Homo sapiens: one gene and its partners. The protein of the gene in region 4 interacts with the protein of the main gene of each other region in a pairwise test. Each region holds a gene or a part of one and is shown on either strand. Other genes may lie near its edges.

The links.
Region 1: the proteins of PKN1 (region 4) and BUD23 interact in a two-hybrid assay, tested with the Homo sapiens proteins (one large-scale study listed by BioGRID and IntAct).
Region 2: the proteins of PKN1 (region 4) and RAB3IP interact in binary tests that used the Homo sapiens proteins (3 or more experiments, as listed by UniProt).
Region 3: the proteins of PKN1 (region 4) and SYCE3 interact in binary tests that used the Homo sapiens proteins (3 or more experiments, as listed by UniProt).
Region 5: the proteins of PKN1 (region 4) and KIAA1328 interact in binary tests that used the Homo sapiens proteins (3 or more experiments, as listed by UniProt).
Region 6: the proteins of PKN1 (region 4) and CCNJL interact in binary tests that used the Homo sapiens proteins (3 or more experiments, as listed by UniProt).
Region 7: the proteins of PKN1 (region 4) and INTS11 interact in binary tests that used the Homo sapiens proteins (3 or more experiments, as listed by UniProt).

The regions. Positions count from the first base shown.
Region 1 is NC_000007.14:73,690,078-73,693,610, forward strand, and holds part of BUD23 (18S rRNA (guanine-N(7))-methyltransferase), read left to right. Parts: intron 1-838; coding exon 839-935; intron 936-2,518; coding exon 2,519-2,569; intron 2,570-3,251; coding exon 3,252-3,337; intron 3,338-3,533.
Region 2 is NC_000012.12:69,745,341-69,748,873, forward strand, and holds part of RAB3IP (rab-3A-interacting protein isoform alpha 1), read left to right. Parts: intron 1-3,533. UniProt on the Homo sapiens protein: Guanine nucleotide exchange factor (GEF) which may activate RAB8A and RAB8B. Promotes the exchange of GDP to GTP, converting inactive GDP-bound Rab proteins into their active GTP-bound form.
Region 3 is NC_000022.11:50,552,909-50,556,441, reverse strand, and holds part of SYCE3 (synaptonemal complex central element protein 3), read left to right. Parts: intron 1-36; coding exon 37-145; intron 146-3,533. UniProt on the Homo sapiens protein: Major component of the transverse central element of synaptonemal complexes (SCS), formed between homologous chromosomes during meiotic prophase.
Region 4 is NC_000019.10:14,464,290-14,467,822, reverse strand, and holds part of PKN1 (serine/threonine-protein kinase N1), read right to left. Parts: intron 259-3,533; coding exon 182-258; intron 106-181; coding exon 30-105; intron 1-29. UniProt on the Homo sapiens protein: PKC-related serine/threonine-protein kinase involved in various processes such as regulation of the intermediate filaments of the actin cytoskeleton, cell migration, tumor cell invasion and transcription regulation.
Region 5 is NC_000018.10:37,154,097-37,157,629, forward strand, and holds part of KIAA1328 (protein hinderin), read left to right. Parts: intron 1-3,533. UniProt on the Homo sapiens protein: Competes with SMC1 for binding to SMC3. May affect the availability of SMC3 to engage in the formation of multimeric protein complexes.
Region 6 is NC_000005.10:160,248,553-160,251,076, reverse strand, and holds the end of CCNJL (cyclin-J-like protein), read left to right. Parts: 3' UTR 1-1,994; downstream 1,995-2,524.
Region 7 is NC_000001.11:1,318,131-1,321,663, reverse strand, and holds part of INTS11 (integrator complex subunit 11), read left to right. Parts: intron 1-570; coding exon 571-668; intron 669-1,134; coding exon 1,135-1,208; intron 1,209-2,139; coding exon 2,140-2,368; intron 2,369-3,533.

The DNA of each region.
Region 1 (3,533 bases), on a different chromosome or scaffold from region 4:
TACTGCAACCTCTGCCTCCCAGGTTCAAGTGATTCTTCTGCCTCAGCCACCTGAGCAGCTGGTATTCAAGGCACATGCCACCAAGCCCAGCTAATTTTTGTATTTTTAGTAGAGACGGGGTTTCACCGTGTTGGTCAGGCTGGTCTCGAACTCCTGACCTCAAGTGATCCACCCATCTCAGCCTCCCAAAATGCTGGGATTACGGGTATGAGCCAATGCACCTGGCTGCTTGAGGTTTTAAATCTGGGGGTTGTAAAGACACTTAACAGGTAGAGTGGAAGGGAGTGATTTAGGAGGAAGGGTGATGGGATGGCTGTGTGTATGTGAGTAGTCTAAAGCCTGTTTCCTTGGATTGGAGGAAGGGAACAAGGAGGGGTGTGTGGGCAGACAGCCTTGACACGGAGGACTTTTCAACTCAAGATGCAGATGGAAACAAGGTGGAGGAAAGGTTTCTTGGGACTATGGGACATAAATGCTGTCCTTCTGTATGTCCTATTTTTCCAGTGTTGTAGAGTCATGACCTGCAGTGGACCTGCACTTTTTTTGTCTTTAAATTTTTAAATTTAAAAATACTTTAAGTAAAGATGGGGTCTTGCTATGTTGTCCAGGCTGGTTTGAAGTCCTGGCCTCAGGCAATTCTGTCTTGGCCTCAGAAAGTGCTGGGATTACAGGGCGTTGAACCACTGTACGTGGCCTCAACCTGCACTTTCTAAGAAGGGAAGCTGTGGGAGGAGGGGTTTCTCTTGGAGAGCCAGGACGGATGATGTCAAGAGGCTTGAAGTGGTTGGGGGAGCAACGTGGATTGCTCCGTTGCCTGACTAGGTCCCTTCCTTTTTAGCATTTCTGCTGTGCAGTGGCTCTGTAATGCTAACAAGAAGTCTGAAAACCCTGCCAAGCGCCTGTACTGCTTTTTTGCTTCTCTTTTTTCTGTTCTCGTGAGTATAAGATCTTCTCCCCATCTGGGTTAGCTGCCTGTCCCTCCCTAGCACTGCAGGTAGAGTGAGGAAATTGAGGTGTCCCATGATGGGTAAGCTACTCATATGGGACCGCATGGGGTGGCAGGACCTTACTGTGGTTACTTCTGTCCAGGTCCTCAGCCTAAATGGAAGTTCAAGCTCAGTGGACTGATATACTCTAATCAAACCCAGAAGTCACTGATACCAAAATCGGAGACCAATTTATTAACTTGTAATAGGGCCTACTTCTGTTGATTGGTATTCCTATGTCTATTGCGCTGAGTTTTAATCAGAAGTTGGTTTGGGGGCATGGACTGAGCAGAGTGAGGACAGAGATGTCGTGTCCGGACCATCCAGAGGGGTACCTTCCAAAGTGCCCACATCCTTCTGACTCCTCACTTATCCCTCCTCCTAGTGCTGATCCTTTTCTTCGGATGAGGAACAGGATAGTTATTTACTGCAAAGAGAGCCTTTATTAGCTTTGTCTTCAAATTAATGATGTTAATTTCAGTTGTTCACTAGGATTAGCTGATAGTCTGAGATTTTAAGTCCTAAAAATGAGTTCTTTTTAAATTTTGTTTTTTGAGACAGACTTTTGCTTTGTTGCCTGGGATGGAGTGCAATGGTGTGATCGTAGCTCACTGCGCCCTCGAACTCCTGGGCTCAAGTGATCCTCCTGCTTCAGCTTCTCAAGTAGTTTGGACTACAGGCACACACCACCATGCCAGGCTAATTTTTTACTTTTTTTTTTTTAAGAGATGGGGTCTACCTATGTTGCCCAGGCTGGTGTTAAACTCCTGGCTTCAAGCAATTGTCTGGCATCAGGCTCCCAAAGTGATGGGATTATAGGCGTAAGCCACTGTGCCCAGCTTAAAAATGAGTCCGTTTTGAAGGATCTGAGTGGTTTTTGCCTCCTTAGCCTGGTCTAGCCCACCCCTAGTTTTCCTGGGGTGGACTGCACCTGCCGATCTGGCCACTGGTCTTTCTTGGGGTGAACTGCCCCTGCTGATGTGGCCGCTGGTCTTTCCTGGGGTGAACTGCCCCTGCTGATGTGGCCGCTGGCCTTTCCTGGGGTGGACTGCGCCTGCCTATCTGGCCGCTGGTCTTGTGTGTCACATGAGTTCTCCTCCTGGCACACTGGGTTAATATTTTAGTTCTGAGGTCCTTTGTGTTTCCTCTTCTCCCTGCTGGAAGGCTCCTCCCTTATATGTTTAAATAGCCAGCTCCTCACTCCATTCAAATCTCTGCTCAAGTATCCATTTGAAACAGGCCTTTTTGGAACCAAAAGTAAACTGAACTGAAAGGAAACTCTGTCACTTTGTCTAATTCCTCTTTTTGTAACAAAGAAAAAATTTGCTACTGTGAATTAGTTGCCTCCTTTACTAAAATGTGAGCTCCAAAGTTCAGGGTGATCTCTTTTGTTCATACTATCCCCAGCCCTAACAATGCCTCACACATAATGGAAATTCAGGAAATACTTGGTGAATGAAGGAAGAGAGGGGTGTCCAGGCCCTAAGCTCATGCAGTCATTTGTAAGACAGTGATGTTCCTGTTTCTTTCAGGTCCGGGGATCCCGAGCTGTCCTGCAGCTGTACCCTGAGAACTCAGAGCAGGTGAGTCCCTCGGCTACTGGGTGTGCCGGGGAGTTGGGGGACTCAACAGGTAAGCTGTCCTGGGGAAGCGACAAAGAATCTTATGCAGATTGGCGGGAAAAGGAGGAAACATGCACCCTAGTGTGGCCCCTGATGGCACATTTGATGACCTGATATCCTAAGGGGGTGGCATCTGCGGAGGTGGGGTGGGATGCCTTCTCTTGGCAGATGACATGGTATTACAGATAAGGTGATGCGACTGATTTCCATAACCAAATAAGTAAATGCCATTTAGGAAGGGTGAGAGGGCACCGACAGTTCTCCGTTGTGTGATGTATAAATTAAGGAATGGCGGAGTAGGATGTAGATGTTGAAAGATAAGTGAAGAGCTGTTCCTGACTAATAACATGAATGACTCTGGATTCCAATTGGTGGCCATCTCCCTAAACTTGAGTGGGGAGCTGGGTCCCTGCACTGGAAAGTGAGAATGAGGGGAGTTGCTTTGTTCTGTAATTCTCCTGAGGGAGGTGTGGGCCATGCCAGATTCTAGCCTGTACTTTTCTCTACGTGGCTTACAGCGACCTTAAGTTCTCCCAGGCAGGATTTGTCCTGGAGCAGACTGGCTTCTGAAGGAGGGGAGGGAGGTGAAGCTGTCTGCTCCTCTCAACCTCCGCTGCCTGACCCGCTGCCTTTCTTTCCTCAGTTGGAGCTGATCACAACCCAGGCCACAAAGGCAGGCTTCTCCGGTGGCATGGTGGTAGACTACCCTAACAGTGCCAAAGCAAAGAAGTGAGCGCTGGGGGCCGGTGTGCTGCCTGGGCTGCAGGAGGGAGGGTAGTGGCATAGCCCTTTCAGGCCACTCAGTGGTGCAGAGGAGTGCTGGGGTGTGGGTCACCAGGGTCCAGGCAGGCGGAGGGGGTGCGGGTGGGGGAGCTGAGGGCTTGTCTCCCTGTGGGGCTTTCTCCACCCAACCCTCACTTTGCAC
Region 2 (3,533 bases), on a different chromosome or scaffold from region 4:
GTATAAAATATCTACACTTTTTAAAAAAATACACAGGAATATGGGTACTATAGTAAATTCAAGTTTCTGTTTATTTTGATTTATGTGCTGTTTTTTTTTTTCCAAGTCCTGTAAGGAGCTGAATAAGTATTAAATTCTGGCATAGTAACAAAACAGAGGAGGAAATGATAACAAAAATAATATAGGGGAAAATAATAGAACACAAAGCAATAGCAAATGCTCATTTCAATAGCAGTGCTTTAGAGAAACTTCAGTTTTGTCTTTGTGAAAGTAAGAGAAGGGTTCAGAGATTAAACATTATTATTCTGTTTGGATTGTTCACTTCTTTTTTTTTAAACTTTAAGTTCTGGGATACCATGTGCAGAACATGCAGGTTTGTTACATAGGTATACACGTGCCATGGTGGTTTACTGCACCCAGGATTGTTCACTTCTTAGAGATCCTTTGCTGTGCTTTAACCTTTATTCCCATCTCCCTACTCCCTATCCATTTCAGCTTCTAAGTGTATCTCAGATGTAGTGGAGTTAGGTGTTAGAGTCAGACACACCAGAGTTTGAATACTAGCTCTGTTACTTTTTGTGTATTTGACAAAATTAATCTCTCTCAGCCTCTTTTTTTTATATATCTGTAAAGTAGGGATAAGAACCATTTCAAATGAATGCTCTGAAGATTAACTGGAATAATTGTGTGTTTGTGAATAAATATAAATGAAGCTGTTCTGAATGTTTTCCATACGTATATATGCCTCCATCCCCTCATTCCCAGTGCATGACCTTGGCATTAGATCAGACAGTAATCGTTTAACCAGCCTCTAGTCTCCAGTGAAGTTCTCATTGCCTTGGGAGTCATTTTTAAATGACTACATTACAATACATCTATACTTTCTAAAATGTAGATCTCACCATCTCTTCAGGATAAACTTTAAGCAACATTTTCTCTTTTAAAGAAGGCTTTTAATGGTCTGTCACAGTCTGCCTCTCCAGCCTGCTTTTCTGTTACTGTCTCCTTTGTTAGTTTTGTTAGTGCCAGACCCTTATTCCCTGACTGTCCTATCCTATTCCCCTTGCCCATCTACTGGACTTGTATTCAGCACTGAAAATCTGACTTATATTTTACTTCTCTTTGAGACATTCTCCTCTTCCCTCTTCCCTCCCCACAACCCTCAGAATAATCATGCCGTGGCTCGTAGAGGCTGTGTGCCATCTCTTTGGTCCATTTGTATCTGTATTCTTAGCACTTAGTATCAGGATTTGCCCGGAGGTGTTGAAGCTGGCAATCATCCTTCCATTCCAACAAGAATAAATATAATTTATCACATATATGTATGAAATAAATGTATTTAATATGTATAATAAATGTTGAAGGTTTTTAAAGAAGTGATGGAATTTGTAACTAATTCATGGAATTTATAACAGTTCAATTCATTATATGCTATTGAAGTAGCAGTCTCATTTTTAATCTCAGAAACTGTTTCTTTCATAATTCATGTTAAATTAAGAAGTCATTTGGGAATTTAAAAAGCATCTGGACTTTCCTCCCTGCCCCCCTTCCACAACTGTCTGTGAATAAATTGAAAGAGGAAAATAGTGCTTACATAATCTTAAACCTTTTCTTTTGACATGTCTTGGAATATTTAATTTCTATTATTGTGATAATACAAGTAAAACAAAATTATACTACAGGATTTATAGATGTTTACTTTTTTTGAGGAAAATCACTCAAAACAATAAGCTTTTAAACCCAAACTCAACAATCATTGCTTTTTGTTCTTAGTGATAGTGCTTGTGCTGATACAATATGATCAAAATATTTGGCCAGTATTAGGAAATGTCCTAGAGATGATTATAATAGTAAGAGCCAGTCTTAATTGGTAAGTGCCAGATATGGTGCTAAGCTCTTTAATTCTCATGACTACCTTAGGAGATAGGTACAGTTTTCTCCCCTTGCCCTTTCGTGTGTGTGTGTGTGTGTGTGTGTGTGTGTGTGTGTGTGAGAGAGAGAGAGAGAGAGGATCTTTCTCTGTTGCTCAGGCTGGAGTGCAGTGGCACAATCACAGTTCGCTATAGCCTCAACCTTCCTGGCTCAGGAGTAGCTGGGACCACAGGCGTATGCCACCACACTCTGCTAATTTTTAAATTTTTTGTAGAGATGGGGTCTCGCTATGTTGCTTTTGGTTGTTGCTTAAACATCTTGGGCACAAGCAACCGTCCTGTCTTGGCCTTCCAAAGTTCTGAGATTACAAGAACCACTGTGCCTGACCTGTCATCTCCATTTTTAGATGAGAAATTGAGACTTAGATCTTCAGGTCACTTTATTAGTAACTGGTGAAGCCAAGATTTGAGACTGATTCCAGAGTACAAGCTATTTCATGAGATAGTGAATACTGGTTAAGTTACCCTGTTGGCTTTTCTTCTAGTAGACAAGTACATTCCTTTATCTACCAGGATTATTTGATCCAATTCTACACTGAAATAGATGAAGATATTTGGGCTCAGATAAGTTACCTGCCCAGGTTCATAGATAGATCTCAGAGCTTGATCAGGAGCCTTAGCTTTCTTCTTCAGGTACTGATGCTTCTACTCTGCTGTGTTGCCATATTACCTCCTTTGTTGGAAATGATTTACTTTCTGAGTGTAGTGCTTTGAGGAATTTTAGTAAACATAGAATTCAAATTATTTAATTTTCACATATATTAAATTGATATGAAAAAAGATAAAAATCACAGCTTTAGTTTTTTTTTTTTTTTCTAAAATTAAAATTCTATGTTTCCCATTTGTCAAGGTAAGTCCAAATTAGGGGAATGTGCTTTTTGTGGAAAAATGGATTTTATTTTTTCTTTTGGACTACTGATATAAATCAAGTTGCTAGATTTCATTTAAAATATGTATATGCATTTTATTCATGTTCTTCAGATGTTTCATTGAAAATATTTTCCCATTAATTCTGATTTCTTGAGTTGTCCTAGGGATGGCTTTTGTTTTCAAGAAACATTTTAAAAATTCACTTTAATTAGAAAAAGTAAATTTCATAAGTTATTAGGATCTTTCTAGGCATTTATTAAATGAGTTAATATGTATGAAATTCTTAGCACCACTATCTGACAACATAGTTAACCTTCAGTAAAGATTGGCTGTTGTTTTTGCTGTGATAGTACTGATTTCGAGAAAGAAAAATTAACAGGAAATGCATATTAGGGATCAGAAGCAAATTGTTTTGATCAACTTTTTCTTGTGGTCTGCAGTCTGCTTTATTACCTGGAGCTCAGTAATAAGGCCAGCCAAGTTGTGTTGGTGATTCACCCATAAGAATTTAATGTGATCATCTTTTTTACATATTGGTCATGATCCTTGACAAGTTTAATTTACTAATTGGGATAATCAGTTGAAATTAGTTCTTTTTGAATCACTCATTGCTTAATGCGAAAGATACTACTGCTTAAAAATAGTAGTTTATTTTACTCTTATAAAGACGTATGTGAAATAAATCTTAAAGCTTCTATGTATTTAAAGGGCAAAAGATTTTCAGACCAGTGA
Region 3 (3,533 bases), on a different chromosome or scaffold from region 4:
CTGTCTGACTGCAGCTTCTTTCTGTGCATTGCCTAGATGGATGATGCTGACCCTGAGGAAAGAAACTATGACAACATGCTGAAAATGCTGTCAGATCTGAATAAGGACTTGGAAAAGCTATTAGAAGAGATGGAGAAAATCTCAGGTAGGATGTGTGAACCCAAAAGTATCTGAGACAGGTCTCAATCAATTTAGAAAGTTTATTTTGCCAAGGTTAAAGATGCACCTGTGACACAGCCTCAGGAGGTCCTCAGGACATATGTTCAAGGTTGGCAGGGTACAGCTTGCTTTTATACATTTTAGGGAGAGAGAATACATCAGTCAGTACCTGTAAGATGTACACTGGTTCGGCCGGGCGCGGTGGCTCACTCCTGTAATCCCAGCACTTTGGGAGGCCGAGACGGGTGGATCACGAGGTCAGGAGATCGAGACCATCCTGGCTAACACAGTAAAACCTCGTCTCTACTAAAAATACAAAAAATTAGCTGGGTGTGGTGGCAGGCACCTGTAGTCCCAGCTACTCGGGAGGCTGAGGCAGGAGAATGGCATGAACCCGGGAGGTGGAGCTTGCAGTGAGCCGAGATGGTGCCACTGCACTCCAGCCTGGGCGACAGAGTGAGACTCTGTCTCAAAAAAAAAAAAAAAAAAGATGTACATTGGTTCGATCTGGAAAGGTGGGACAACTCAAAGGGGGATGATTCCAGGTTATAGATAGATTTAAATTTTTTCTGATTGGCAATTGGTTGAAAGAGTTATGGTCTAAAGACCTGGAATCAATAGAAAGGAATGTCTGGGTTATGACGGTAAGGGGTTGTGGAGACCAGAGTTTTATCATGCAGATGAAGCCTCCGGGTAGCAGGCTTCAGAGGGAATAGATTGTAAAAAGCTTTCTTATCAAACTTAAGGTCTGTGTTCATGTTAATGCTAGTCACCTTTTCCTGAATTCCAAAAGAGAGGCAGGTATAACGAGGCATACCCAATTTCTCCTTCTCCTCACGGCTTGAACCAACTTTGGCCAAGCAATACACCCACCTTGGCCTCCCAAAGTGTTGGGATTACAGGTATGAGCCAGCGTGCCTGGCCAAATAGCTTTTATTCACTAGAGCAGACTTTAGAAAATTTCTCCTTAGAAATGTTTGCAATTTTTTGCCTATGTACTTTTGAACTATGAATAGCTGAGACACGTATCAGTTAATTTAGAGAGTTTATTTTGCCAAGTTTGGGGACACTTATCTGTGACACAGCCTCAGGGGGTCCTAATGACATGTGCCCAAGGTGGTCAGAGCACAGCTTGGTTTTATTTATTTATTTATTTATTTTAAGACAGAGTCTCGCTCTGTCGCCCAGGCTGGAGTACAGTGGCGTGATCTCGGCTCACTGCAAGCTCCGCCTCCCGGGTTCATGCCATTCTCCTGCCTCAGCCTCCCGAGTAGCTGGGACTACAGGCGCCCGCCACCACGCCTGGCTAATTTTTTGTATTTTTAGTAGAGACGGGGTTTCACTGTGTTAGCCAGGATGGTCTTGATCTCCTGACCTCGTGATCCGCCCGTCTCGGCCTCCCAAAGTGCTGGGATTACAGGCGTAAACCACCGCGCCTGGCCTTGTATTTTTAATAGAGACAGGGTTTCACCATGTTGGCCAGGATAGTCTTGATCTCCTGACCTTGTGATCTGCCCGCCTCAGCCTCCCAAAGTCCTGGGATTACAGGTGTGAGCCACCGCGCCTGGCCTTTTTTTTTTTTTTTTTTTGAGACGGAGTCTTGCTCTGTCGTCCAGGCTTGAATGCAATGATGTGATCTCAGCTCACTGCAACCTCCGCCTCTCGGGTTCAAGTGATTCCCCTGCCTCAGCCTCCTGGGTAGGTGGGATTACAGGCGCCTGCCACCATGCCCAGCTAATTTTTGTATTTTTAGTAGAGACGAAGTTTCACCATTTTGGCCAGGCTGGTCTCAAACTCCTAACCTCAGGTGATCCACCTGCCTTGGCCTCCTGAAGTGCTGGGATTACACGCGTGAGCCACCACGCCCAGCCAGCAAACAGTTTTATGTAGTGAAAAATCTATCAATATTTTCCTTTCTGATTTATTGCCATTATTTTGACACCTAGAAAGTCTTTCCTCAATCTGAGATCAGTGAAATATTTAGTTGTATTTTCTTCTACTTTTCTCCGTATTCCTTTTTAACATTTAATCCTAACCCATCTGGCATGCCAAATGACCTACGCTGCGTATTGCTTTTTTTTTTTTTTTGAGACAGAGTCGCGCTCTGTTGCCCAGGCTGGAGTGCAGTGGCACAATCTCGGCTCACTGCAAGCTCTGCCTCCCGGGTTCACGCCATTCTCCTGCCTCAGCCTCCCGAGTAGCTGGGACTACAGGTGCCCGCCACCATGCATGGCTAATTTTTTTTGTATTTTTAGTAGAGATGGAGTTTCCCCGTGTTAGCCAGGATGGTCTCAATCTCTTGACCTCATAATCTGCCTGCCTTGGCCTCCCGAAGTGCTGGGATTACAGGAATGAGCCACCGCACCCAGCCGCATATTGCATTTTTATATAAATCTGCTACAGGCTGGGCACGGTGGCTCACACCTGTAAACCCAGCACTTTGGGAAGCCGAGGCAGGAGGATCACAAGGTCAGGAGTTTGAGACCAGCCTGGGCAATATGGTGAAACTCCATCTCTAATAAAAATACAAAAATTAGCTGGGCGTGTTGGTGGATGCCTGGAATCCCAGCTACTCAGGAGGCTGAGGCAGGAGAATCACTTGAACCCAGGAGACGGAACTTGCAGTGAGCCGAGATCATACCATTGCACTGCAGCCTGGGTGACGGAGCGAGACTCTCTCTTCTGTGATAGTCCCTGGGCATAGAGGGAGGGTGTTTGTATCGTTTTAGCAGCAGGGCATTTGCAGTGTAACAGATCCGGGCCCAGTGCGATGCCAAATGAGGGAGATTCATATCTTTGGTCATCTGCAGAATACCATGATTTTAGTTTCCTTGGAAGCAAAATGAGGGGAGATAAGTTTGACAATTATAAGAGTAATTTGTGCATTAGAACAGAAAAAGGAACCTATTCCATTAGGGCACCAACGAAAAATATGAGGAAAAGTTACAATCTGGTCCTCTCTAGAGGATTATTGTAGCCAAGAAACAATGATTTAATTTGCACTCAAAAAAACGTTATGGCTGGGCGCAGTGGCCTGTAATCCCAGCACTTTGGGATTTTATTTATTTATTTATTTATTTTGAGACAGGGTCATACTCTGTCACCCAAACTGGAGTGCAGTAGTGCAATCTTGGCTCACTGCAACCTCCACCTCCCAGGCTCAAGGGATCCTTTTTTTCATCTCAGCCTCCTGAGTAGTTGCAACTACAGGTGCACACCACCATGCCCAGCTAAATTTTGTATTTTCTGTAAAGACAGGGTTTCAACATGTTGCCCAGTCTGATCTCAAACTTCTGAGCTCAAGTGATCCACCCACCTCAGCCTCCCAAAGTGCTGGGATTATAGGTACCAGCCACCTTGCCCGGCCAGCCACC
Region 4 (3,533 bases):
GTCTCCCAATTCCCTGCCCTCCACCTCACCTTCCCAAAATGACCCCGGCCCAGCACCGCCAGGAACTTGAAATCTTCGAGGGTCAGAGGTGACTTCCTCAGAGGGCTGTGGAGAGAGGCCACTGGTGAGAACAAGGACAGCGGGCAGGGGTGGTGGACAGGGGGCCAGGGAGTGGTGTCACCTGCACAGGGCGGGGCCTGGGGTCTCCTGGGTCTCCGAAGGCAGCTCGGGAGCAGTGGATTCCTGGATGGGGGAGCTCTGTGGCGGAGAGAGGAGGCCAGAGTAAGGGGAGTCAGAGATGCCCTCATAACCACAGCAGCCTCCGAGGCCCTGCAAGATCTGCCCCCGACCTCTCTGTCCTCACCTCTCCTCCCACGCAGCCCCTCACTCACTCTCCTCCAGCCACACGCCTGCACCACCATGGCTGGCTAATTTTTGTATTTTTAGTAGAGACGGGGTTTCACCATGTTGGCCAGGCTGGTCTGGAACTCCTGATCTCAGGTGATCCACCCGCCTCGGCCTCCCAAAGTGCCAGGATTACAGGCGTGAGCCACCATGCCCAACCTGAATTTTTTTTTTTAGAGACAGGGTCTTGCTCTGTCTTCCAGGATGGAGTGCAGGGGCGCAGTCATAGCTCAGTGCAGCCTCCAACTCTACCTCCGCCTCCTGAGTAGCTGGGACTAAAGGCATGCACCACCACGTCCAGCTCATTTTTTTTTTTTTTGAGATGGAGTTTCACTCTTGTTGCCCAGGCTGGAGTACAATGGTGTGATCTTCGCTCACTGCAACCTCCGCCTCCCGGATTCAAGTGATTCTCCTACCTCAGCCTCCCAAACAGCTGGGATTACAGGCATGCACCACTACGCCCGGCTAATTTTTTATATTTTTAGTAGAGATGGGGTTTCTCCATGTTGGTCAGGGTGGTCTTCAACTCCCGACCTGAGGTGATCCACCTGCCTCAGCCTCCCAAAGTGCTGGGATTACAGGCGTCAGCCACCGCGCCCGGCCTAATTTTTGTAGAGATGGGGTCTTGTTCTGTTCCTCAGGCTGGTCTCAAACTTCTGGCCTCAAGCGATCTTCTTCGTTCAGCTTCCTGAGTAGCTGGGACTACAAGTGCAAGCCATCATGCCTGGCTTGACAATGTCCATTTTTTATTATTATTTTTTTTATTTTTGAGACTGAGTCTCACTCTGTCGCCCAGGCTGGGGTACAGTGGTGTGATCTCAGCTCACTGCAACCTCCGCCTCCCAGATTCCAGCAATTCTCCTGCCTCAGCCTCCCAAGTAGCTGGGATTACAGGCGTGCGCCACCACGCCCGGCTAATTTTTGTATTTTTAGTAGAGATGGGATTTCACCATGTTAGCCAGGATAGTCTTGATCTCTTGACTCCAAAGTGCTGGGATTACAGGCGTGAGCCACCATGCCCAACCCATTACTTCTACTTTCTAAAAAATTAGATCTATAAAAAATTAGCCAGGTGTGGTGGTGCACGCCTGTAGTCCCAGTTACTTGGGAGGCTGAAGTGAGAGGATCACCTGAGCTCAGGAGGTCGAGGCTGCAGCGAGCCATGACTGCGCCACTGCACTCCACCCTGGATGGCAGAGCGAGACCCCGTTTCAAAAAAAAAAGATAAAAGATAAAATGCATTCAGGCTGGGTGCAGTAGCTCATACCTGTATCTCAGCAATTTGGGAGGCTGCAGAGGGGAGAACACTTGAGGTCAGGAGTTCAAGACCAGCCTGGCCAACATGGTGAAACCCCATCTCTACTAAAACCAAAAATTAGTTGGGCATGATGGCACATGCCTGTAGTCCCAGCTATTAGGGAGGCTGAGGCATGGGCATCTTTGAACCTGAGAGGCGGAGATTGGAGTGAGCTGAGATCACGCCACTGCATTCCAACGCCCATTCTGGGCGACAGAGTGAGACTCTGTCTCAAAATAAATAAATAAATAAAATGCATTCAGTGAGGTGGGCAAGAGGAACAGGTTACATATGCATCCACCCAGGAAACCATCAGCCAGCCTAGGAGTTGGCAAATGCTGGCTGGTGGGCCAGCCTGTTTTTATAGTTTGTAAGAGCTAAGAATGGCTTTCACTATTTTTTTTTTTTTTAAGAGATGCAGTGGCCGGGCATGGTGACTCACACCTATAATCCCAGCACTTTGGGAGGCTGAGGTGGGCAGATCATCTGAGGTCAGGAGTTCAAGACCAGCCTGGCCAACGAGGTGAAACCCCGTCTCTATTAAAAATACAAAAATTAGCTGGGTGTGGTGGGCACACACCTGTAGTCCCAGCTACTCGGGTGGTTGAGGCAGGAGAATCCCTTGAACCTGGGAGGCAGAGGTTGCAGTGAGCCTAGATCACGCCACTGCACTCCAGCCTGGGCAACAGAGTGAGACTCCATCTCAAAAAAAAAAAAAAAAGAGATGGAGTTTTGCCATGTTGTTCAGGCCAGACTCCAACTCCTGGGCTCAAGTCATCCTCCTGCCTCGGCCTCCCAAGTAGCTGGGACCACAGGTAAACTGATTTTTACATTTTTAAATCGTTGGGGGAATAAAAAAAAACAAAAAAAGGAATAATATTTCATTGCCCATGAAAGTTCTACAATGTTCAAACTTCCGCGTGTACTACCAATAAGGTTTTACTGGAATAGAGACACGCTTACAGTGTACATATATCGTCTGTGGCTGCTTTCAAACTACAAAGCAGACAGGGACTGTCTAGCCCACAAAGCCAAAAATATTGACTCTCTGGCCCTTTCTGGAAAACGCGTGCTGACCTCTGACCGAGATCAAGATAAGGAACATTTCCATCACCCGGCAGGTCCCCTTGTGGCTCCCAGCTTGCGGTAACCTCTGCCTAGAGAACAGCACTCTCTCGATCATTCTATCATTGACATGAGTTTTAAATATGCTCGTTTTGCAAAGTGGTACACTGAGGCACAGAGGTGAAGCGCAGAGCCAAGAGGTGGCACGGCAGGGGTGGGAACCCAGGGGGTCCAGCCGCTGAGCTCACAGTTTTATTTATTTTTATTTTTTGAGATGGAGTCGCTCTGTCGCCCAGGCTGGAGCGCAATTGGTATGATCTTGGCTTACTGCAACCTCCGCCTCTCAGGTTCAACTGATCCTCCTGCCCCAGTTGCCCGGGTAGCTGGGATTACAGGTGCCCACCACCGTACCCGGCTAATTCTTGTATTTTTATTAGAGACGGGGTTTCATTGTGTTGGCCAGGCTGGTCTTGAACTCCTGGCCTCAAGTGATCCACCCGCCTCAGCCTCCCAAAGTGCTGGGATTCCAGGTGTGAGCCACTGTGCCCAGCCTGTTTTGTTTTTTGAGATAGTATTTCGCTATGTTGCCCAGGCTGGAGTGCAGTGGCAGGATCATGGCTCACAGTGGCTCACTGTGTTGCCCAGGCTGGTCTCAAACTCCTGGGCTCCAGCAATCCTCCCATGTCAGCCTCCCAGAAGTGCTGAGATTATAGGCATGAGCAGTTTTTTAACCAGGATGGGGATCTGGGCACACGTTTTAACCAGC
Region 5 (3,533 bases), on a different chromosome or scaffold from region 4:
TCTTCACAATAACTCAGTAATTTTCAATCCTATCTGAACATTAGAATCACCTATAGAACTTTTTTAAAAGGAGAGGAGAGTGAGAGAGGGAAGCAAATAATATCCAGGTCCCACCCTAGACTGATTAATTCAGTTTCGACAAGTGGGTGAGACTCAGTCCATCGCTCTTATTAAAAATTCCCCAGATTATTTAAATGTATTGCCAAGCTGTGAATCACTGCCTAAAATCAGCATCTTTTCTGAGAGCACCACTTCTATTAGAGGCCATTCTTTCTGTCACATTTGATAAACAACAGAGAGAGGAGTGCCAGCATTTTTCTTGCATATCTCTTTATTTATGTGAATCTAAATATATGTCTAGTTTTACTGCAGCAGTCCATCCTTTTCCATCCTTTGTTTTCCATCATTATCTCACTAGGACCTTGACGTCCCACTTAAAGTCACTTTCTCCCCCATAACTCCTACCATCATTCTGTGAGATCCCAATATCCATATGGTTGATGTATCCATTGCCATAGCTAAAGAATTTCTGCGTTCCTCAATTCACTCCAGCATCATCCATGGTGACACCCAGAGCTTGCTATCACCCACCATGGTTTCATCAGAAAAATCATTGACTCTGCCATCCCAGCCTCTTTCTTTACAGCTTATATTCTCATGTTTATCACATACACCATACCAAGGGTTTTTATATTTCTGGTGTTGTTGCTGTTTTATTTTCGCTTTACCTTAAAGGGATATCTAAATTATTTATTTCCCCTCATTTTTCTGCCAGTCTTTTCAGTCCCTGTTGCCTCACTTTCTTCCTGGACCGAATGGTTGACCTATACTACATTAATATATTTATTTCCCTTGACCCCCAGTCTGCTGCATTGTCCCAGTAAAAATCCTAACCCTAGATTGAGCTCTCACACTGCTTTCTCTGCTTTTTAATCTCTGCACTTGAGCCCTGCTACAAATGGATGATTTCTATTTCTGTTAGGGCCTCAACATTTCAGGAAAATCTTTTTCTTTTCATTTCTATTTCGAATTCCCTCAATACATACTCCAAACCTTCACCTCTCTTCTCAATACCTGCTTTACTCACTCACAAGAATGACTGTATCTCCTCCTACACCAAGGAAATTGAAATTGAAGCATATTCTTTCTCAACTCTGCCTCCCTCAACTCTACCACCTCTAAACTCACTTAGCCAATAGCAAAAAGCCATGGAGTTACTGATCAAATTACTTTCTTGAAATATCTTCTCAGATGTTCCATAAGCATCTCAAGCTGCAGTTAATTTTTCCCACCCTTCCCCAATCCTCCTCTGTATTGCTTATCAACCCAAAATTCTGGCAGTCATTCTTGACTTTTCTCTCCCTCTCTCTTACATCAAGTTCTACCCTTTTTAAATCCTAAATATTTCTTAAACTATGTCTTTCCGTTCCTACTACCGCTTCTCTATTGCAAACCTTCATCTCTCACCAGAGCTGTTTCAGCAGCCTTCCAACTCATCCAGTTTCTTGAAGCCCATTCTCTAAATGGTGCCAGAGTAATTTTTCATAAATTCTGGTTGGATCATATCATTTTTCTCCTGAGAGCCTTTCAGTGACTCCACCTTGGCCACAAGATAGAGTTCAAGCCCCTCAGCATGGAAAACGCAACCTTTCATGATCTGACCTGCCCTGTCTTACCTGCTTCATCTCCGTTCCTCCCTACCACACACCCAAAGTTTAATGCTGTAACAATACCTAGCTATTTAACTTTCCCAAAATATGAACTGAAGTTTCATTTGTTGGTATATTTGCTAATACTTTTTTATTTTACCTAGAACATTCTTACATTTTTCCTTATCTTTCAAGGTTAAGTTTGAGTATTTCAGGAATCTCTCTTCTGTTATGCAAATAAAGTTAGGTGCCTTGCCCTTGCACTCTCATAACATCCAGTATATTCCTGAATTACTGCATTTGGCATATGGTATTAAAAATTCTGTTTCCACGTCTGTCTCCCCCACTAAAATCTCTTTAAGAATAGGAACCAGGGCTGGGCCGGGCTCGGTGGCTCACACCTGTAATCCCAGGACTTTGGGAGGCCAAGGCGGGCAGATCACCTGAGGTCGGGAGTTCGAGACCAGCCTCACCAACATGGAGAAACCCCATCTCTACTAAAAAATACAAAGTTAGCCGGGCATGTAACAAAATTACAGGCATGGGATTGCATGCCTGTAATCCCAGCTACTCGGGAGGCTGAGGCAGGAGAACCGCTTGAACCCGGGAGGCAGAGGTTGTGGTGAGCCGAGATTGTGCCATTGCACTCCAGCCTAGGTGACAAGAGAGAAACTCCGCCTCAAAAAAAAAAAAAAAAAAAAAAAAAAGAATGGGAACGAGGGCTTTCTCATGTTTGTATACCCAGCACCTAGCATAAAATAAGTCCTCTGTAAATGTTTGTTTTCCATTTTGCCCAGCCCAGTCTCACAGTACATATCAGGCCCATAAAGTGTGTTCTTCAGTCAATATCTGATGAATATATAAGTGAATGATTGATTAGGAAATTTATTAAAAAGGAATAAGGAGAGCAGAAGTTGAGACAACTGAGATTTCTTATGAGTGACTGGGAGGATGGTGATATCATTAAGTGAGAATGGAAACAGAAGGAGGAAGTAGTTTCAAGATAAAGATACTGGATTGCTTTAGCAAGAGTTGGTTTGGGAGGCAGGAATAGACATCGCTTTACAGCTTTTCATCAGATACTTGATCAGGTCAGCAGTTTTGGCAAGCACTGTGAACTAGAAGAATCTGTTTAGAAATCGTACTTGCAGATATAGAGGTGTGGCAAGGATCACCAAGAAAGTACTAAGAGGGAAGAGGACAGGGACAGACTTTTGCAATGTCTGCATCTAAGGGGAAGGAAGAAGTCTCCTAAAACCAGAAAACCAGTCAGGATAATGTGTTATGAAGACCAAGGGAGAAAACATTTCAAGAAAAAATGTTTTCTTGAATTTCTTGAATTTCTGTAGGGTGATCTAGTAACAAGCAAGACTGTTCAAAGAAGAAAGGCCTTTTGATTTGTTCTTTAAAAACAAGTTCTAGTCGGTATGTCTGTTAGAATAAATTATTGTTTTCTAGACGTTCAGCAGACAAGGAGAGAGGAGATGGTAATGGAAGGGACATGGTGAGAGTTTTTTGTTTGTTTTTAAATTATAAAATGCATGCCTATTGGAAGAAATTAAAACATTCAGAGTTATATAAATTAAAATATAAAACTCTTCCCTCTATTTCTTCTACTCCCTTCTAGTTTGACATTTATCCATCCAGAACTTTAAAAATATTTTTGTATATTTTTATTTTTATAAAAATGAGATCACATTATATACTCTATAATTGCAAATTGCTTTTATTTTAATAGCATGTCATGAAGTTTCTTCTCATCAGTGTAAAGAATTACCTCATCCTAGCCAAGTGTGGTGGCTCACACCTGTAATCCCAGCACTTTGGGAGGCCGAGTGGGCAGATCACGAGGTCAGGAGTTCAAGACCAGCCTGGCCAACATAG
Region 6 (2,524 bases), on a different chromosome or scaffold from region 4:
AGCAACATCTAGACTAGTACCTAGCCACACAACAGGCACTGTAGCCTAGCCAAGCTGCCACATAAACTTAATGATCACACCACTTACCAGCTGTTGGAAGGCAGTTGACCCAACCTCTCTCTGAGCCTCCATCTTGTCACCTGTTAAAATGGGAGTGATAACACCTTGCCTCATAGGGTTCTTAAGAGGATTAAATAACATAATGTACATCAAGGCCAGTACCTCCAAAAAAGGAGATAATTATTATATTTCTTCAAGCATAAGATCAGCTTTTTGTAAGATGCACTATTATTTTATGCACTAATAAGACTTTTTAGAAAACTAAATCATGAGGCAGTTTGCAAGATACCATTGATTATATGTTGCATTCTGATTTCAGAAGCGTTACATGTCAAAATATGTATATGTAGAATTGATGAGATATAGCATCAGCTGTTATGAAAAATGTCAGATTCGTACTCCTCCTTGAAGGGAGTCTCACTCAAGACTTCTGTCTTGCCCTCTACCTACCCAGCTTCCAGCAGGAGAACCACCCCAGAGAGCCGGTGTCACTGTGGGGCTGAGACATTTGCTAAGTGCAGATGCCTTTGATTAGACAATTAGGGGAGGAATGGGAAGATGAGCTCAGGGCCTGAGGCTGCAGCCCAGACCCAGGAGTGTGTTTGACACCGCCAAGGGCGGGGCTGAGGGCAGTGCTCACCACCCGCTGTGTGCAAGGCTAGGTGAGGCAGGAAGCTCTAAGTTTTGGGGATTCAGAGACAAGGCAAGTCTTGGGTTGACCAAGAGCACCCACCTCACTTTGGACAAATCCCTCCCTCTTTGGGCTTCCATTTCTCCATCTGTTACTATGGAGATGGTCAAGTTGGTGGATGGTTCTAAGCTCTTGGGGCGGGGGGAGACTGTGCCACAGAGGCTGTGACCTCTGTGGCCTTCAGCCAGAGGGATCCACTTGTATTTCTTCCACCCTTGGGCACTCCCATGTAAGATTGTGTTAATTCCCATGCTGGAGGACAGCTATGAAAGCTTTAAAAAGCACAAAGATAGTCTTAAAGTTCCTCCCAGGGCTGGCATCAGGTTAAATTCAGAGGTTTTCAAGCCTGAGCAAGCTGCAGAATGACCTGGAGCCTTCTCTAGGAGGGGTGGGGACCTGGAATCTGCACTTTAGCCAGCTTCTTGGTCATTCAGGCATATGATTTCTTTGTTTGTTTTTTATATTTCAGTTGTATTTTTATAACTCCCCAGTTTAGTTTGATTTTTTAAATTTTTATTTTATTTATTTATTTATTTATTTATTTATTTATTTATTTATTTTTTGAAACAGGGTCTCACTCTGTGGCCCAGGCTAGAGTGCAGTGGCACAGTCACGGCTCACTGCAGCTTCAACCTTCTGGGCTCAAGTGATCCTCCCACCTCAGCCTCCTGAGTAGCTGGGACTACAGGCACCTGTCACCATACCCAGCTAATTTTGGTATTTTTTGTAGAGATGAGGTTTCACCATGTTGTCCAGGCTGGTCTCAGACTCCTGAGCTCAAGCAATCTGACTGCCTCGGCCTCCCAAAGTGCTGAGATTACAGGTATAAGCCACTACGCCTGGTCCAGCTTGTTTTGAAAAGTATTTTCTGACGTCTATATGAATTTAACAGAATTATCTCAAAGTACACAGAAATTACCTGTATTTGCCAGTAAATATGAGATGCTGATGAAAGAATACTCAATATACCAATATTTAAGCATGTCAACATAATAGAACTTTTTCCACCTTTTAAAATTATTTTTCCCACCTAACCCAATTTATATTTGACATTTGGGTTACATGTGCATATAGAAACAGACCTATTCCACAACTGACCATAGATAAACTAGCATGCAAGTGTCCTTTCTGGATGTAATTAAGTTTCAGAGGCAGCATGGTTCAAATGGGAGCAAATGAGCTGACCTCCTCATGAAATACACTAGGCAAAAAATCAAGAAGTATTAAAGTTGCTAAAGACTGATTCCAGATCTTTTATTTCTTCCTTTTTCTTTTTAATTTTGAGACAGGGTCTCACTCTGTCGCCCAGGCTGGAGTACAGTGGTCCGATCTCGGCTCACTGCAACCTCTGCTTCCCAGGTTCAGGCAATTCTCCTGCCTCAACTTCTCAGGTAGCTGGGAGTACTGGTGCGCGCCACCATGCCCGGCCAATTTTTGTATTTTTAGCAGAGACAGGGTTTCACCATGTTGGCCAGGCTGGTCTCAAACTCCTGGCCTCAAGTGATCCACCCGCCTCGGCCTCCCAAAGTGCTGGGATTACAGGCATAAGCCACCCGCCCAGCCTCTTCCCTATCTTTTAAATATACAAGTGTGCACTGTGGGTGTGTGTGAATTAAGACGATTCTGGACTGTGAGCTCCTATGGGCGGGGCTATTGTCACTCTATAAAAAGCCCTAGGGCAAAAAGATGGAGGTAGTGCAGGGAGCAGAGGGCGCCTGTCCTCCATCCAGCCATCATCAAACCCACCGAAGAGGCAGACCCGATTAAGTCTTA
Region 7 (3,533 bases), on a different chromosome or scaffold from region 4:
CGTGTTGCCACGCTGGCCACTGCTGGACCACTGGCACCGTGTTCGCTATGGCATGGCTGAGGCTGTGTGGCGCCCCTCCACAGCCGCACCACCAGAGAACACCCAGTGCCAGCACTTAGTCACTTACTGCCTTGCCTGCCTGGGGAAAGATCCTGGAGAAGGTGGCCTCATTGGTTTGCAGCTCTGCTGGGGGTCCAGCCACAGCCCAGGAGTGACTCTGACCGAGGTGTTGGCCCCACAGACCAGCCGTTGTCTCTGTTGGAGGCTGAGGGCCACAGCACAGTGCCCACTACTTAGCCAGCAGGCCGTGGCCACCTTAAGAGGCCAGGGGAAGCTGGCGGGGGAGGGCGTGTGGGCTGCCAGCCTCCACCCTGGACATGATGGTGTGGGGCATGGTCCCCTGTGTCCCCCTTCCTGTGAGTAGGGGTGGCCCTGCTTCTTGGCCCATGTGTCTGTCCACACAGCAGACTTGGTCCGGTTTCCTCAGTGCACTGGGGTCCTGCAGAGCTTGGGGAGGCAGCACAGGGGGCGGGGGGCGCAGCAGTGACTCATCTGCCCTCCCTCGAGTAGGGGCCGGCCAGGACGTGGGCCGAAGCTGCATCCTGGTCTCCATTGCGGGCAAGAATGTCATGCTGGACTGTGGAATGCACATGGGCTTCAATGACGACGTGAGTCCCTTGGGCAGGAGGCCCAGAGGCTGGGAGAGCCGGCCATCCACAGCTGGACCCTGGGCCTCAGAGCCGGGACAGTGGGGTGGTGGGCAGCAGTGGTTGTGCTTGGATGGCTGCACCCTGTGGGGAGCAGGGATGGGTGGGCCTGGCCGAGGTGAGCCCCTGCATGGTGGGGTCCCCCTGTGCTGGCGCTGAGCCCCAGCCCCGGGGTCCTGTAGGCTGGACTCCGTGAGACCCTGGGCTCAGCTTCCAGCTCACATCTGTCAGTGAGGTTGGGGGTAACCTCGGCCCCTCCGGATGCTGTGAGCAGCCAGGGGTCCTGGTGCCACCTGCGGGATGGGAGTGCCCAGCCTGAGTCTGCACATAGAACCCCCCTTCCTGGGGGCCCCTCCCTGGGGCATGGGTGGCCCCAGATGCTGCCTGGAGACCACTGTGCAACCTGAAACCCCCACATCCTTCCTAGCGACGCTTCCCTGACTTCTCCTACATCACCCAGAACGGCCGCCTAACAGACTTCCTGGACTGTGTGATCATTAGGTGGGTTCCTGTTGGGGGCCTTGAGGGTCCCATGTCTGTGCCTGTGGGGCTTGGGCCACCTTGCTTGGTCTCGGCAGCGTTTGGCAAGGGGCCTGTGCCATCCTTGATCCTCAGGGGGCTTCTAGGCCCCAGGATCTGCTCCCTGCCTGCCTTACTGGTCACACACATGGCCTGGTCTCTGTCTGTTCTTCCGGCCCTGCCCTCTGAACCCTACTTTCTGAACCCGGCCCTCCAGGCTTCACCCTCTCTGATGCCTTCACTGTCTCAGGATCTTTAAACCCCACTGTCTTGTTGGCGATTCCAGAGTCCCGAGTCTGCCCTGACCCCAGCCTTTAGGGTTCAGCAGCTCATGACCCGCTGGTCTGGGTGGCCTCGTCTGGACGGCCACAGCACTCCTGCTGGCCCCCTGCCCTTCCCTGCCCTGTCCTCCCCAGCAGCCAGGCCCGTGAAGCCTGGAGAAGCCCCTTCTCCTCTCCGGAGGCAGTGTCCTCAGCTGCCCCTGAGCCCCTCGTGGTTGTGGTTTCTTCTCAGACACGGTGGGGTCCCCAGTGCCTTCCTGGGGCTTGCCAGGCGCTGCCCTTGCCCTCAGGTCTGTGCCACCTTCACCTGCAGCTCCACTCAGCCTGTCCTGACTGCCTGAAAAGCCAGCGGCTCCCCTATGCGCGGTTCCCTCAGCAGCTTTGCATTGTCTCGCGAGCATGTCGCCGTCACCGACGTGTTCAATTTCCCGTTTGCTTATTGCCTTGCTAGACTTTGAGACTGAAAGTTCCAGGGAGACAGTTTTGTGTTTGCTCATTACTGACTCTTCGGTACTCGGGATGAGGCCTGGCGCACAGCAGGCGAATGAAGGGGCCAGTGACCCACAAGCCCAGAGCGGGGGTGAAGGCTGGGGCAGGGTGGGCCCAGGCTGACCTGTGCTGCGTCCCCCTAGCCACTTCCACCTGGACCACTGCGGGGCACTCCCCTACTTCAGCGAGATGGTGGGCTACGACGGGCCCATCTACATGACTCACCCCACCCAGGCCATCTGCCCCATCTTGCTGGAGGACTACCGCAAGATCGCCGTAGACAAGAAGGGCGAGGCCAACTTCTTCACCTCCCAGATGATCAAAGACTGCATGAAGAAGGTGGTGGCTGTCCACCTCCACCAGACGGTCCAGGTCAGGTTCCCAGGGCCACAGCTGGCACAGTCACTGCCCACCCCCACACCAACCATGCCCTCCGCCCGTTCTACACAGTTTCTGGAAGGCTGGGGCCTCAGGGTGAGCCCACCCCACCTCACTCTTGCGTCCAGCACCGTGGGGACACCAGGAGGCGTCAGCGCGAGGATGCGGGTCCCAGACCAGACTGGGCGCCGACCCGGGAGAGCACGTGCAGGGTGGGGGTATGCACCGGCTTATGAACCCACCAGGCTCTGTCCGAGCGGCATTGAAATGGCCAGAGTGGGACAGGCTGGTGCCCTCAGAGCGCTTGGAGCGGCCAGAGACTCGCTGGAGCTCCCGGGGTGTTGCCGGGCAGGGAGGCAGGGGCTGGAGGGGAGATGGGCCAGCTCTGGAGGGTGCCTGGTTCTGGGTGTGGGTCAGGGAAGAAGTGAAGGTTAAATCAGCGAGTGACAGGTGAAATTCCATTTCTGACAAAGATTATGGGTTTGTCTGTGTCTCACTCGAATCTCTGGGTATTGCTTTTATATTTCTTGAAACTATATTAGGTACCTATGTATTTTGGAACATTTAATTTTCTGATTGAACTTGTCAAAATGAAGTATGTTTATCTTTTTTGTTGTGAAACTTTAATTTTTTTTTTTTTTTGACAGTGTCTCACTTTGTTACCCAGGCTGGAGTGTGATCTTGGCTCACTGCAGCCTCGGCCTCCCGGGTTGAGGTGATCTCCCACCTCGGCCTCCCAAGTAGCTGGGACTACAAGCATGTGCCCATACGCCCAGCTAATTTATTTTGGTATTTTTTGTAGAGATGGGTATGTGTTGCTAAGGCTCTCGAACTCCTGGGCTGGGCTCCAGGGATCCTCCCACCTCAGCCTCTCAAAGTGCTCGGATTACAGGCATGAGTCACCACACCTGGCAACTCCCTCAGTACATTTTAAACCCAGAAAGACATCATTTCTAATGCCTGGTAACACCAACATTTGCTTAGTTTTATTTATATATTTATCCTTTTTGTTGGGCTTCCTGCATTTTTTCTACTTTTTACTTGGGATAATTTGCCTTCTGCCTGAAGAATATGAGTGTGGGTCTGCTGGTGCTGAATTCTGTCAATTTTTATTTGCCTTGGCCAGGCGCGGTGGCTCACGCCTGTAATCCCAGCACTT